Linked DNA regions of Homo sapiens. The protein of the gene in region 1 purifies or fractionates together with the protein of each later gene. This does not show direct contact. Each region holds a gene or a part of one and is shown in the gene's direction. Other genes may lie near its edges.

Region 1 (3,937 bases):
ACCACTCCCAGTAAATTTTTTTTTTTTGATAGAGTCTCACTATGTTGCCCAGGCTGGTCTTGAACTCTTGTGCTCAAGAGACCCTCCTGCCTCAGCCTATCAAAGTATTGGAATTATGGGCATGAGCCACAACACATGGCCCCTTTCTCTGCTTCTTCATCTGCACTTCTTTAAATTTTATTTATTCATGGTGGCCACATGCCCCATCCTAGATGAGGAATCATGGCATCCTCATTCCTCTTGGCCATATGTGAATCCTCAAAGTCCTCAATCCCTTATCCATTATTCTAAAATCTAAAAGGCTCTAAAGATGAAAATGTTCTGTCCTAAATTTGAGGCTAACTCATTTGGCAGAAAAACTTGGCATGGCCTGGTGTGAGGCTCTTTATGGTCTTTTATTTATCCCACATTAATATTCATACATTTTGCATCAGGCTATTTATGCATTAGACTGCAGAGTGCTGCCCCCAACCTCCTTGGTGGTTTAACATAATATACAGAATTTGCACCTTCCATAATCTGAAACATTCTGAGTTCTGAAACATACCTGGGCCCCAGGTCTTGGATAAGGAATTGTGAAGCCCAGCTCTCTTTTTCAGCCATAGCTGATAGAAAGGGAGGTTGTGTGACCCAGAACCAAACAGTGGAATGTAAGGGGAAATCTTCTTGAGCTTCTAGAGAAAGATCTTGCTCTTAAAATAAAAAGGTAAAGCCCCTACAGAAAGTGGCCTTGCCCCACTCCTTCCTTCCTGCTCAGGGTCTGGGCTGAGGATGTGGCACCTTCTACCTTGTGACCATGAGGAGACAAGATCGAAAGATTAGCTGAGAATGGTGGGGGAAAAAGGGAAACTTTATGAGCCCCCAAAAGAACTCTGGAATCATAAACCATGCTTCTAGTTAAGTAAATACTGAACTTCCTTATTTTTAATCCAGGATTAATTAGTCTTTCTGTGACTTTCCTCCAAATGAGATTGGCCAGGGACAATAAAATGGTGTCTGAACAGGTGACAAGTAGGGCCCTCCCTCAGCCAACAGAGATAAGAAAGAGCATACACTTGGGTTTGGGATAGATGATGGGTGGATTAATTTGTTTGTTAACTGCAAAGTAACCTCTTCCTGATGAAGGATCAAACAAGAAGCCTATAATACCGGCAGACCACAGAAGGCCCAGGTGCTAGCCTTATCGGGTTGCCAAGAAGAAAGGAGAAGGAGAACAAAAAGGCAGGAGGACTCCCTTGGCAGAGATCCAGAGCAAAGGCAGCTGTTGCTTCTCATGAACACTCCAAAGTTTATCACAGTCACCTGTTACCCTAGCTGGCACAGGTCTTTGAAAGTGTGCTGGGAGTGTGTTTACATGTTTGTGTGTGCTTGTATGTTAAAGGTGCCCAGGTTAATACCAGGTGTATTAAAACGCCCTTGCCTGGCTAGTCCTTGTAGACCTTCTCTGAATGTTTTGGTGAATAAATCTGTTCTTCAGCAACCCTACCTGCTTCTCCAAACTGCCTAAAGAGATCCAGTACTGATGACGCTGTTCTTCCATCTTTACTCCCTGGAAACTAACCACGTTGTCTTCTTTCCTTCACCACCACCCAGGAGCTCAGAGATCTAAGCTGCTTTCCATCTTTTCTCCCAGCCCCAGGACACTGACTCTGTACAGGATGGGGCCGTCCTCTTGCCTCCTTCTCATCCTAATCCCCCTTCTCCAGCTGATCAACCCGGGGAGTACTCAGTGTTCCTTAGACTCCGTTATGGATAAGAAGATCAAGGATGTTCTCAACAGTCTAGGTAACTGACTGGGGTAGGGGAAGCGGGGGGTTGACCCTTGCTCATTTCTCCTGTTCTTAAACTCTAGCTTTGTCTCTATCCCATCCCAAGATCCCAACCAAGCCCAACCCCTGATGAGGGCTTTCTACACTACCCTACCCGTGTTTGAAGTCTTGGCTAAAAGCTGAGGTTTTCCTGATGAGGAGGAAGAGGTGGAGGAGAATGGTAGCTGTAATTTATGAACACTCATTATGAACCAGGTATAATCCAAGTTTTACGTAGATTATTTCATTTAATTCCCACAACCATTTTATGAGGTAAGGACAACTATTACTTCTGCTTTAAAAATGAGGAAACTAACCTTAAAAGCTGATGAGTAGGCTGATTCTGGACACAGTGTCACCTCCAAGGTAGAAGACAATTTGGAAGGGGATAAGGGGATTATGGGGAGGATAGCTCATGGGATGTACCCTTTCTTCTTTCCTACTCAGAGTACAGTCCCTCTCCTATAAGCAAGAAGCTCTCGTGTGCTAGTGTCAAAAGCCAAGGCAGACCGTCCTCCTGCCCTGCTGGTGAGTAACTCCCTGAGAGGGAATGGCGACTACGATGCCCTGTATCCTCCCCTGTCCATCTCCCTGCACCTACGTCTTCCCCCATGTCAGGTCTGTATCACCCTGGCACCCTGGGGCTGAGTCATGACTCTTGGTTCCCAGAGACCCCTTGCCCATTCTTGTTTCCCTGAAGGATGCTACTGGGGGATCTTGGGCTTCTGCCTCTTCCTTTCACCCCTTCACTTCATGCCCCTGTTTCTCAGCCCTTCCTCTCCTCCATTGTCCCATAATGATCACATACTTCATTTCTCTTTCCAATCTATTCCTCTGTTTTGATGGGTAGGGGCCAACAGAGAGGTGAATTTATCACAAATCGAAGAAAACTGAAACTCCCAAGTTCCAAGTCTCTCACTTGCATGAGTCTCTTTCATGGCAGCAAATATTTGTTTCTGTGATTTCTGTATTTCTTTTCTTGAAATGAGCTCGCAAAATTGAATGAGCTTGAGGCCCCACGAAACCTAGCTCTACCCCTGACTGCACAGGGTTGAAAGATGGTTGTGGGTAGCCCTTCCTCCTCTTAAATTCCAAGAGCTCTGATGTCTGTGCTTCATGTGCTCATGCAGGGATGGCTGTCACTGGCTGTGCTTGTGGCTATGGCTGTGGTTCGTGGGATGTTCAGCTGGAAACCACCTGCCACTGCCAGTGCAGTGTGGTGGACTGGACCACTGCCCGCTGCTGCCACCTGACCTGACAGGGAGGAGGCTGAGAACTCAGTTTTGTGACCATGACAGTAATGAAACCAGGGTCCCAACCAAGAAATCTAACTCAAACGTCCCACTTCATTTGTTCCATTCCTGATTCTTGGGTAATAAAGACAAACTTTGTACCTCTCTGTGCTTATGTCATCTCTGTTATTGTCCCCAGCTTGGGGCTCCCCTATCCAGAAAATGTTGTCAGTGTCCCAGTGGTGACATCTCAGTTTGGGAAGTGGGATGGGAAGTTAGGAAAGATATGGGAAGAATGGGAAAAACAAACTGACACTCCAAACCCCCACTTCCCTCATTTTTATTTATTTATTTATTTATTTTTTTCTTTTTTTTCATTTTTTTTTTTTTTATTATACTCTAAGTTTTAGGGTACATGTGCACATTGTGCAGGTTAGTTACATATGTATACATGTGCCATGCTGGTGCGCTGCACCCACTAACGTGTCATCTAGCATTAGGTATATCTCCCAATGCTATCCCTCCCCCATCCCCCGACCCCACCACAGTCCCCAGAGTGTGATATTCCCCTTCCTGTGTCCACGTGATCTCATTGTTCAATTCCCACCTATGAGTGAGAATATGCGGTGTTTGGTTTTTTGTTCTTGCGATAGTTTACTGAGAATGATGGTTTCCAATTTCATCCATGTCCCTACAAAGGACATGAACTCATCATTTTTTATGGCTGCATAGTATTCCATGGTGTATATGTGCCACATTTTCTTAATCCAGTCTATCATTGTTGGACATTTGGGTTGGTTCCAAGTCTTTGCTATTGTGAATAGTGCCGCAATAAACATACGTGTGCATGTGTCTTTATAGCAGCATGATTTATAGTCCTTTGGGTATATACCCAGT
Region 2 (3,756 bases), on another chromosome or scaffold:
CTTTCTCTCTAGATCATGGCTGTTAGAAGTCCCCTCCACAAAAACTTGCCAAGGAGTCATTTCCTGGTTTTTGCACTGCTGCCCTTCCCCGTCTCCTTAATCTCTTTTTAAGTAGGCAATTAACTTGTGCGTGCATGTGTCAATTATGCCTATAAAGACTGCTATTCTCTACAGGGCAAAAACCTCTGCCCTCCTGCCTCTGGAGGGGCCAAACTCAACTACACTGTGCTCATCGGAGAGACCCCTTGTGCTGTCACCGTATCTGAGACCCAGCTTCTCTGCGAGCCTCCCAACCTCACCGGGCAGCACAAGGTCATGGTGAGTGAGCCCTGCGTCTGTAATGCCTCCTTCCCGCCTCGTGGTGCATGTGTGATCTGTCCTAAGGAAAGGCTCTCTTCTGTCTCGTTGCCTGACTCACCCCCTCCATATCTCCTCATCTCTGGGTCCTACATCAAATTGGGTATAAGCTGAGAACACAAGAAAAGAAAGGCAGATGCCGAGGCAGGAAATTGCTTTTTATCTAGAGCTGCACTGTGTGGTTGTGGTCTGTCATGTCCTTCCTCGCACTGTAAGGATCTGCTGGCATGCCCGGGCTCTACACCTGTGTGCATCCATGTGCGTCTGTATGTGTACAATGCACAGGTTCACGTGGGCGGGATGGTGTTCTCGCCTGGCTCGGTGAGTGTCATCTCAGACAGCTTGCTGACCCTGCCAGCCATCGTCAGCATCGCGGCCGGCGGCAGCCTCCTCCTCATCATCGTCATCATCGTCCTCATTGCCTACAAGCGCAAGTCTCGAGAAAATGACCTCACTCTCAAGCGGCTGCAAATGCAGATGGACAATCTGGAGTCCCGTGTGGCCTTGGAGTGCAAGGAAGGTTAGTGGAAGCACACCCTCATTTGCTGGGTCCCTCTTTCTCCACCTGCCTTATTGCCCTTCTCCCTGCAGACAACTCCTATCTTTACTCCCATCGCTGCCAGCCATGCCTCTGCATTCCACTTTCACCCCTGTTTTCCCAGAACTTCTTTTGCTTATAGGGTCAGAGATGTCCAATGAAGAATGCCCACTGCATGAGGACCCAGGTCCAATTGCATTGTTCTAGTCCCTTCTTTGCCCTGACCCATCCCACAATCTGGCAAACACTTTCTCCCTCTCAGGGCCTCAATGTCCCCACAGTCAGAGTCCCCAGGCTCCACAGCCCCAGACTCTAGATCCCCCATGGGAGTGTCCAGCTCTTGTTTTTCTGCACACTGTCTTCGCAGCACGTGGGAGCAGCGGCAGCAAAGGCAGACAAGCACCTGCCTCATCTCCCCCAGGGTTTGTTTTCCATCAGTGCTGCAGGCTGAGCGCTCTGAAGGCCGCCACTTGCTGGTGTCCTTGGCTGTGGACGTGTGTGGGAGTGCAGATTGTGTTTTCTCCCATGTCCCACGCAACCACAGCCTCGAGGTGACGAGTGTACCTGGCGTCCTCTCAGGCTGAGGACCTGGCAGGCTCTCTGGGTAAACAGCTCAATTAGGAATGAAAACATTTCTCCTTTTGCTGCAAATGTCAAGATCAGAAACAAGCCCTCTGCTGGATGACAGGGAAGAGCTGGGCTGGGAAATAGGACATGTGGAGCCAAGGTTCCTCCTGGCAACAGGGCTGGTGAGTTTGGCAGAGGAAGGAGCCAGGAAGACAGGTGTGCCACCACCAAGGTGAGGCTTCTGAAGCCCTTGCCTTCCCAAACTCGGCTCTCAGCTGAGCGTCTCATGACCAGACCTCCCCTAGGCTTTTGCATCTTGATTTATTACCTTGATTAGAAAAGGGCAGCACTTTGCCTGTTCTGGTCTTTGCTGGACCCCCTCAGCCATGGTCTCTCACCTGCCTCCAGCATCTCCGTGATCTTTACTAAACGGCCCAATCATGATACTTTTTTTTCCTTGTTGAAACTACACTTGTAATATGTAAAGAGAAAATTTGAAATTATAGATAAGTATAGAGGAGAAAATAACATAAAAATCACCCATTTCCCCACCACCTAAAAACAGCTGGGAGTAGCCCCGCCCTCTGGAGACACACTCCCGTAATCCTCAGAGTCTCTACAAAAGGTCCTCCCCTCGTCCTTTGCAAACTTCTTCTCCCTCTTTCTCCTCCCCCGACTGGGGCTTCCCCACGAGCCTCTCCGTCTGCTTATTCTCATAGCTTTTGCTGAGCTCCAGACGGATATCAATGAGTTGACCAGTGACCTGGACCGCTCAGGAATCCCTTACCTGGACTATCGTACCTACGCTATGCGAGTCCTGTTCCCGGGCATCGAGGACCACCCCGTCCTGCGGGAGCTGGAGGTAATGCCTGCCTCCTGGGCCCAGCCACCCAGCAGGGATGCAGGCCCAGGGTATCCTAGGAAATCCAGATGAGACTCAGCAGTACTGAGTAAGGTTAGCAGGGAAGAGGGGTCAGTAGTTTGTAACAGCATCTCAGCAACAGAGCTATCAGGAAGGTTACGGCTGAGGGGGCACCCAGGCTCCTTGGGATGGTTCCAGGGTAAAGCTCATTGTTTGTCATTTTTTAATTAATGACTGAACTAATTAACTAAGATCCTGCCTCATTCTAAAATGGATTTAAGATGGCTTAAAGAAAGACACAGGATTCTATGAGGTTTGTTTGTTCATTTGTTGGTTTGTTTTACTAAAGATAATAAATCAGGCAGAGGAGATTAAGGGGAGACTAGTAAACTGAAGAAGTTTGAGGGGGCATCTCCTATTCTATCCTTGGGAAAATCAGGCAGCCTCCCCTCTGAGAGCTCCGCATGGAGCCCAGCCTCCCCGGCCCAGTGCAAGGTCAGAGCAGACTGTCGACCTTAGAGCCAGCTGTTCCTACATCATCACGGGTGAGTGGAATGGGGTGGGGTTGGTTATAGGCCTCAAACATAGGGTCCTACAGCTAGTGTCATCGCCAGCAGGCCCTCAGTGAGACCCTCAGGTAGGAGGCCCGATGCCTGTCCTCTGAGGGCGTCGCCTCCACCACACCCCACCCCAGGTACAAGGAAACGGGCAGCAGCACGTGGAGAAGGCCCTGAAGCTCTTTGCCCAGCTCATCAACAACAAGGTGTTCCTGCTGACCTTCATCCGCACCCTGGAGCTGCAGCGCAGTTTCTCCATGCGCGACCGGGGCAACGTGGCTTCGCTCATCATGACCGGCCTGCAGGGCCGCCTGGAATATGCCACTGATGTCCTCAAGCAGCTGCTCTCTGACCTCATCGATAAGAACCTGGAGAACAAGAACCACCCCAAGCTGCTACTCCGGAGGTCTGGCCCGCAGCAGTGGGTGGAGAGGGTGGCAGGAGTCTGAACCTGGACAGAGCACCTCATTATAGCAGGCCCCACAAGCAGCATGAGAAGGCCCACTCCCCAGAAGGGGCACCCATTCAGAGCAGCCTGTGTCCTCACGTCTCTGCAGGGCAGAATCTGACTTTCCCTCAGCCCAGGGAGACTACAGAGTCTGAAGTCACCCAGGTGTGATGGATGAGCTCAGACCCTTGCTCGGATCTCAGCTGGAGTCCCAGCTCTGCCTCCTGCTAGCTCTGTGATTTCTGGCCAGTGTTGTAACCACTCTGTTGTTTAGTTTCCTCCTAGACAAAATGAGAAAAATAATTCCTATCTCACAGTCTCTTCCTCCCGGTGCCTCTAGAGCTGTGCTGTCCGGCACAGCGGCCCCTAGCCACAGGTAGCTGCTACAAATTAAAATGAAATAGAATGTAAAATCCAGCTCCTCCAT
Region 3 (3,756 bases), on another chromosome or scaffold:
GGCATGAGCCACTGAGCCTGGCATTTTAATGATTTTATTCTCCATGGAACTTCATAGACACTGACTATAAACAGCTCAGAACAGCCTTCAAGGACTTCCAGAAATCCATCAACAGGGCCCAAGCCACGAGTCTGTGCCTCTTCTTAGATGGCTTCTGTCCACATTTCTGAGGGTCTCGGGACCCCCAGTGGTGTGAAGTCAGGTTCATTATTTGCTCTGCCCCTGGGGAAGCGCCCCCCTTCTCTCTTTGCCTCTTGCTTTCGGTCTGATTTATGGCTTTAGAAGGTTGGCCTGGAGAGTCTTAATTTAAATCCTCTGTCAGAGGTTGTTACATGAACGTGGTGTCAGTAAAAAGCTGTTTTCCTTTGGTTTTGCTCCTCTATTGCCTCTTTCATGGCATGAAATACGAGGTAGGAAAATAAGGCTACCAAATTGGGGTTGGGGGAGCTATTGAAAAATTCTTGCATAATCCCCTTGAAGTTGCCATGGCACCTTCCCAGCCAGGGGCTGAAGTCAAAATGCTGGATCTTTAAAGCAGGTTTCCCAAGGCCCCTCTCCCTGCTCAGTTTCTGTCTCTTTCCTGTCTCTAGATGCTGTTCTGGTGGTAGTCACAGTTGGAGGCAAAACCCAAGTCTGATGTCTGTCAGCTGTTTTAAACTCCTCTTCCTCTAGCCAAGGAGACTCTGTTTAGCTTTTCTATATTTGCATTATGAAAACAGTAGTTTTTTTTCACTTCCCAAATTCAAAACAACATTTTCTATTTTAATAGTGAATATGCTATATGTGCCTGCCTCCTGGCCCTCAGATATTTTTATGCCCCTAAGGAAATATTTTTACCCTGCAATGAGAATCACCAGGCTATTGTTTTCGAGCATTTTCCTAGCAGTGAGACATAGCATTGTTTTTCTATCATCTGACTTATCTGTAAAACTGCATTGAGCTACTTTGTGTCTCTGTGTACTCCTATGGTTTGTTTAAACATGCGTGCTTTACCTATATGTGTGTCATTAACAGAGCCATTATTTCAAGGAAGTTGGCTTCTTTAAAGTGGAGTTGAGTGCTGTTGTTCAGTGCACAACATGGTTCTCCAGGTTGCTGATACCAAGTTCCTTGCTCTTAAGAAGGGTATTTTTGTAACAATCTGTAAACATTCAGTGGGTGCCCAAGACTACATTCCTGTCAATTTCTTCAAGAGAAGAGTTGTAGAATAGTGGTATGAAAAAAATATAGTAGGTAAATAAACAAGTAAATGAAAAATAAAGTAATAGTACAGGTTTATGATGTGATTCTTTTGTTATCAAAAAAGTAGATGTGTGCACGTGTATTTCCATGTATGTATGTACATAAAATCTAGGGAAGGTACAGTGTTTAACTTTGGCAGGATTATAGGTTTTTCCACTTTCTTTTTTAAAACTTCTTTATAATAAGAAACCCAACACTATTTATTTTTAATAATTAGAACAAAAACAAAACCAGAAAAAAAAAGACAAAGAGCAAAGCCAGGCAGGCTAAGTGGTTGATTGGGAAGAATTTTCAGGTAAGTGGCTGTGCAGATGTGAGATGCCCTGGAGCTGGCCATGCTGGACACAGGGCACCACGCTCTGTCTCAGCCGGGGACTGGCTCGGGGGAAACCAGGTTGGGCTGTTCAGACATGCTCATGTGTTACTGAGGCTGCTGAGTGCAGACACCATCCGGCTGGGCCTGTTTTCTCTCCAATTGGATGGAAGCAGCATTGTGTAATTCACTGAAATTCACTCGGCCTACTTTGTCCAGCAGCCTTGGAGGGTGGGGAGAAGCCAAGGCTGGACCTTGTTTCTGCTCCTCCTGGGTGCCGAGCATCACTCCACATGAGGCTGATGGCCACGGCTCCATCATGCTGTGTCTGGGCGTGGAAGGGTCTACATGCACAAGCATTCCTGCATCAGCCTGCAGCATAGCCAGGCTCCTGCACCCACCTCTCCTGCAGTCCACAGACAGAACATCAGCAGGAGCCACTCTGAAAACATTGAGATATTCCACCCTTGGGACAAGCTGCCACTCTGAGAAGGGGCATCCCTGGAGTCCCTGGCTGGCTTGTTGCTGCAGTTGAACCTATTTGGTGGGAATGCTAATGAATGCTGGCAGCAGAGATGGCCACAGGGAGGTTCTGAACCTCCAGGCCCCTCAGCATGCGCTGGCATGGGAGACAGCTCTCTGTGGTAATTCATCAATGGGGCAGCTCATCAGTTCCTGGGTCCAGGCCTGGTCCTTGCTACTTACTTTGGATGCTGGGCACAGAAGACAGGAGTGTTAAATCACAGGAGTGATAGTCACCACAGGCTGTGTCTTCTCTTGCAGAGAAAGTCTATTCGTGTGACCAGGAGAGGCAGAGTGCCCTGGAAGAGGCCCAGCAGAATCCCCGTGAGGGTATTGTCATCCCTGAATGTGCCCCTGGGGGACTCTATAAGCCAGTGCAATGCCACCAGTCCACTGGCTACTGCTGGTGTGTGCTGGTGGACACAGGGCGCCCGCTGCCTGGGACCTCCACACGGTAAGCCCCCCAGACTGGGTCCTGGGAAAAACGCACCTGCTGGCTGTTATCCATGCTGGCATCTCCCAGTGTTCCTGCCCTGGTCTGGTGGGAGATGAGTGCCTGGGAGAGCCATGTTTTCAATGAGTAGAAGAGTTTCAGGTAGAAAGACCCTGGGACCTGGATTCTGGTCACAGGCCTGTCTCTTTCTAACTTAAGACCTTGGAACAGTACTTAACCTCTCTGAACGTCAGTTTCCTGATGAGATTATTGCCCTTTCTAAGCCACTAGCTTCCATGGATCAAAAAAGATACTGCGTGCAGCTCAAGTATCATTGTTATTATGCTTGAGTGGTTGAAATGACATGCCTGAACATGTCTCAGTGGGAACATTGATGCTAAGATTGCCTTGTAGCTGCCGGGCAGCGCAAGAGATATCGTTCTGCCCACCCTCAGTGCTTTAGGCTTGGTGACAACATAGATCATTGCTGGGCAGTAGTGACTGAAGTAGGCTCAGTTGCCAGCCCCTCCCAACCCCCCCCATATCTCTCTTTTCCCAGCTACGTGATGCCCAGTTGTGAGAGCGACGCCAGGGCCAAGACTACAGAGGCGGATGACCCCTTCAAGGACAGGGAGCTACCAGGTGGGAGACGATGCTGCCCTGCCGGCGCCATCACCTCCTTCTGTTCCTCCACCCTCTCATTATGCAGAAGAAGCTGTCTCCTCTTTGTCTGTTTCCCCATGTGTAAGATGGAGCCAGGAGCCGTGGGATCTACATCCTGGTCTGGGATTTATCCCTAATTAGCTCTGCTCTTGTGCACATTGCTTCTCTTCCTTGTGCCTCTTCGTCTTTATAATGCAGTCATCGGGTTAAAATCCCGTCTGCAGTTCCACAATGCGTTGTCCATCTGAGGTCCATGAGGACAATGTTTTGAGCACTGTGAGTTATTTTTTCCAGAGCTGTGAGGATAAGATAGCTTATAGGGAGGGGCTGTCCTGAGCGATGTGGACAGTGTCTGTTGCTTGCTCTGAAGAGGCAGATGACCCCTGGTGACACAGGACGACCATGGAGTGTGACACAAGACACATAGGCAGGGCCCTGGTACCTCCAAATGGCTGATGTGCGGGTTTCCCCTTATTTATAGCAATCTCTGCCTGCAAGTTACAGTAACATTACTAAATATTGGTGGCTTGGAATCTTATTGTCTTTACACAGCACAAAGTCAGATTAGTGCTGGTGGGAAATG
Region 4 (3,031 bases), on another chromosome or scaffold:
TCTTGGGTATTATGAGTAATGCTATGAACATGGGTGTACACATCTCTCTTGAAGTCCCTTCTTAGGTCCTTTAGGGATACATATCCAGGAGCAGAACTACTAGATCACATATGCTAAGGTCTGAATGTCCCCCCACCAAATTCGTATGTTGAAGCAACCACCAACGTGATAGGTGAGGCTTTAGGAGGTGATTATGTCATGAGAGCTCCATCCTCATTAATGGATTTAGTGCCTTTATAAAGGGGCTCAAGGGAACCAATTACCTCCTTTTTGCCCTTCGATTCCCTTCCACCATATGAGGACACAGCAACAGGCCCCGTCCTAGAAGCTGAGACTGGGCCCTCAATAGATGATACCAGTCTGCCAGCACGCTGATCGTGGGCTTCTCAGTCTTCACAACTATGAGAAATAAATTCGTACTTTTAAATTACCCAGTCTCAGGTATTCTGTTACGGTTAACACAAATGACTAAGACAACAGGATAATTCTGTTTAACTTTTTGAGAACTGCCAAACTTTTCCACCGCAGCTGCACCATTTGACATTCCTTCCAGCAATGCACAAATGTTCCAGTTTCTCCACATCCTTGCCAGCACTCATTTTCTGGGTTTTTTATAATAGCCCTCCAAATGGGTGTGACGTATTTTGATTCTATGTCCCTAATGACTAGTGATGTTGAGCATTTTCTAGCATTGATTTTTAAGATGTTACCCAAAGACCCCTTGTATCAAAATAAGCTGGATTTTTTTATTGAAAATTATTAACTCTAGAAATTTTAGTTTAAACTAGACTTAGGGATATGTGTATTTTACCGGTATTCCACGTTTTATGCATGGGTTTTTAAAACTTCTCAAGTATTAAAACTAAAAGCTTTAGGTGCTTTGCTTATCAAGAAATCCTACACTGTCCACTGGAGACATCCATGTTTTTACTTGGCTCTGCCCCTTTAGTGGTCCCTGTGAACCTTACCTCAAACCATGCATCTGGGGCAGAGATCCTTACTTGCTTGGTGGTTACAAATGCAAATACAGTGAAGAATGTCATCTTTGTGATTGTTCCTGAAATAGTTCACGAGAAATCCATGACCGTAAAGTACTGTGATAGTGATGTCTACCACTGTGAGCTTCCAGTACTAGGTGATTGGTCTGCATTCACAGTGACCAAAATCAGCTATGTGGCCAGGTAATTCACTGCTGAGGGCTTTGGATTTTCCTTTATGAACTACTGAAATGAGGTCAACTTGACTATTACTAAGGGACATTTTGCTACAAAGAATGTTAGTTTTGCCAATTCCCTTTCCAAATCTAAAATTTATTTTAACCAGGATTTTAGATGTAAACATCAAGTAGTTTTGGTTGTTTCAATGAAGTAACATGTTTAAGCTCACATTATTTGAAGTACTTCAGTTCCTATTGCCATGAAAATTGTATCCAGCAGCTAAAAAAAAAAAAAAAAAAAAAGACTACAGTTAGTCATTATCCAATTTGATGATTTATGGTCCAACACTAATGCTCATTTTTTTTGTTTGTTTTACAAACATTTGGTGGATACCACAATGAAAACTGCACTTAAAAAACAAAAATGCTGAAAGAGGAAGGAAATATCAAAAAGGTCTGAATAGACAACAGGCAAATATGGTGAGTGGTCATTGAGATGTTTTAAAAGTTACAGCAAAAGGACTTCTAAAACAATTTTAGGAAAAGCTTTGTCATGAAAATTCATTTCTTTGGAAATACTGTAGTTTGTACTTAATGACACTGTCAGCACATTTCTAGGCAATACAAACTCTTGAGGCTAAATCCTCATCCTGACATGACAGTGCAAGCCTGTCAAAATGTGACCCCAAAACCAGGTGTCCTTTTGCTCCATTATTTATATCTGTAAACCTGTTATTATTTTCAGAATTCAGAAAGGCCTAAGAAAATTACATCTATGATAATAAAGTGTATTTCTTTGTCAAGTTTCTAGAGCTATATAAGGATAGCGAAAATATTTGGTTCAGCAAGACACTGGGGTATCAAGTCAGGCATAATAAGCACTTTATAGCACATCTAGCCTTCCTCATTCCCTTACGCAGTGGACATCATACCCTTTTGTGGAGGAGGGACCAGGCAGAGAAGGTATTTAAATAAAAACTGGTAGATACAGAGTCAGAAGTCAACCCAGGCAGTTAGAATCTACAACCCACACTGTTTGCCACCAAATCTTAGTAGATGCTTGATAAGGAATTTTGTTTGGATGGTGCCATTTTTAGATAAACGTACGTTTCTTTTGGTAAATTCAGGTTAGGATCATAAGCAGTAAACTACCAAATACTCCTTTGTGCTTTGAACATGCACACTGGATGAGTGGGGAGGGGAATGACAAAGCTTCAAACTCCGGGTCTCTGTAACACTCTATCTGTACCTTTCATGTTTAACCTACACAAATACCACAGTCCTGCGTGGTAGTTCACACACACTATTCACCCTGTCGAGTTTCGACATTACTTTTATGTCCATTCTAATGCAGCAGTCACAGACTGACCCCCCAGGTATGTTGGATTTGATCCATTATTTTCTTAATTTGGATTACTTACCAATTCTTCTAATCAGGAGTGTGAATGAAATAGAATTCTACCATTAGTAGAATCACTGCAGATGTTTCTAAATATGAAGAGCTTTTGGGGGTTGGAGGCAGCACACTATTATTTTGGTGAGCTAAGCTATCTACAGCCACTTACATACGTTTGAAGTTTGCAGAAAGGTGGGTCTTAAAATCATACATATTACAATAAAAATTACTCACAAAGGAAAAACTGTTCCCCAAAAATTAACACACCAAACTGGCCCATGATTAAATAGGACAATTTCAAGTTTAAGGGTATAAAAGCAATAGAACAAAGTTAATAAGTATCTCCCATACCTACCCCATGTACAGCCTCCTGAAAGACACCAAAAATAAGAAATGGAGGAAGTCTTCGTTATAACAAGCAATTTCAGGACAAGAGTTATGCCTCATAAATCAAATGTGTAATGGACCAAGAAATATGG

The links. Proteins that work in one complex are often made in the same cells at the same time.
Region 2: the proteins of RETNLB (region 1) and PLXNA2 purify together in Homo sapiens (affinity purification with mass spectrometry; one large-scale study listed by BioGRID and IntAct). This does not show direct contact.
Region 3: the proteins of RETNLB (region 1) and SMOC1 purify together in Homo sapiens (affinity purification with mass spectrometry; one large-scale study listed by BioGRID and IntAct). This does not show direct contact.
Region 4: the proteins of RETNLB (region 1) and LONP2 purify together in Homo sapiens (affinity purification with mass spectrometry; one large-scale study listed by BioGRID and IntAct). This does not show direct contact.

What each region holds. Positions count from the first base shown.
Region 1 is NC_000003.12:108,754,907-108,758,843, reverse strand, and holds RETNLB (resistin-like beta isoform 1 precursor), read left to right. Parts: upstream 1-1,433; 5' UTR 1,434-1,658; coding exon 1,659-1,785; intron 1,786-2,255; coding exon 2,256-2,336; intron 2,337-2,938; coding exon 2,939-3,066; 3' UTR 3,067-3,206; downstream 3,207-3,937. UniProt on the Homo sapiens protein: Probable hormone.
Region 2 is NC_000001.11:208,041,629-208,045,384, reverse strand, and holds part of PLXNA2 (plexin-A2 precursor), read left to right. Parts: intron 1-174; coding exon 175-318; intron 319-642; coding exon 643-877; intron 878-2,181; coding exon 2,182-2,324; intron 2,325-3,018; coding exon 3,019-3,287; intron 3,288-3,756. UniProt on the Homo sapiens protein: Coreceptor for SEMA3A and SEMA6A. Necessary for signaling by SEMA6A and class 3 semaphorins and subsequent remodeling of the cytoskeleton. Plays a role in axon guidance, invasive growth and cell migration.
Region 3 is NC_000014.9:70,008,416-70,012,171, forward strand, and holds part of SMOC1 (SPARC-related modular calcium-binding protein 1 isoform 1 precursor), read left to right. Parts: intron 1-2,338; coding exon 2,339-2,531; intron 2,532-3,069; coding exon 3,070-3,152; intron 3,153-3,756. UniProt on the Homo sapiens protein: Plays essential roles in both eye and limb development. Probable regulator of osteoblast differentiation.
Region 4 is NC_000016.10:48,355,075-48,358,105, forward strand, and holds the end of LONP2 (lon protease homolog 2, peroxisomal), read left to right. Parts: 3' UTR 1-1,590; coding exon of another isoform or gene 1,591-1,636; 3' UTR 1,637-2,275; downstream 2,276-3,031. UniProt on the Homo sapiens protein: ATP-dependent serine protease that mediates the selective degradation of misfolded and unassembled polypeptides in the peroxisomal matrix.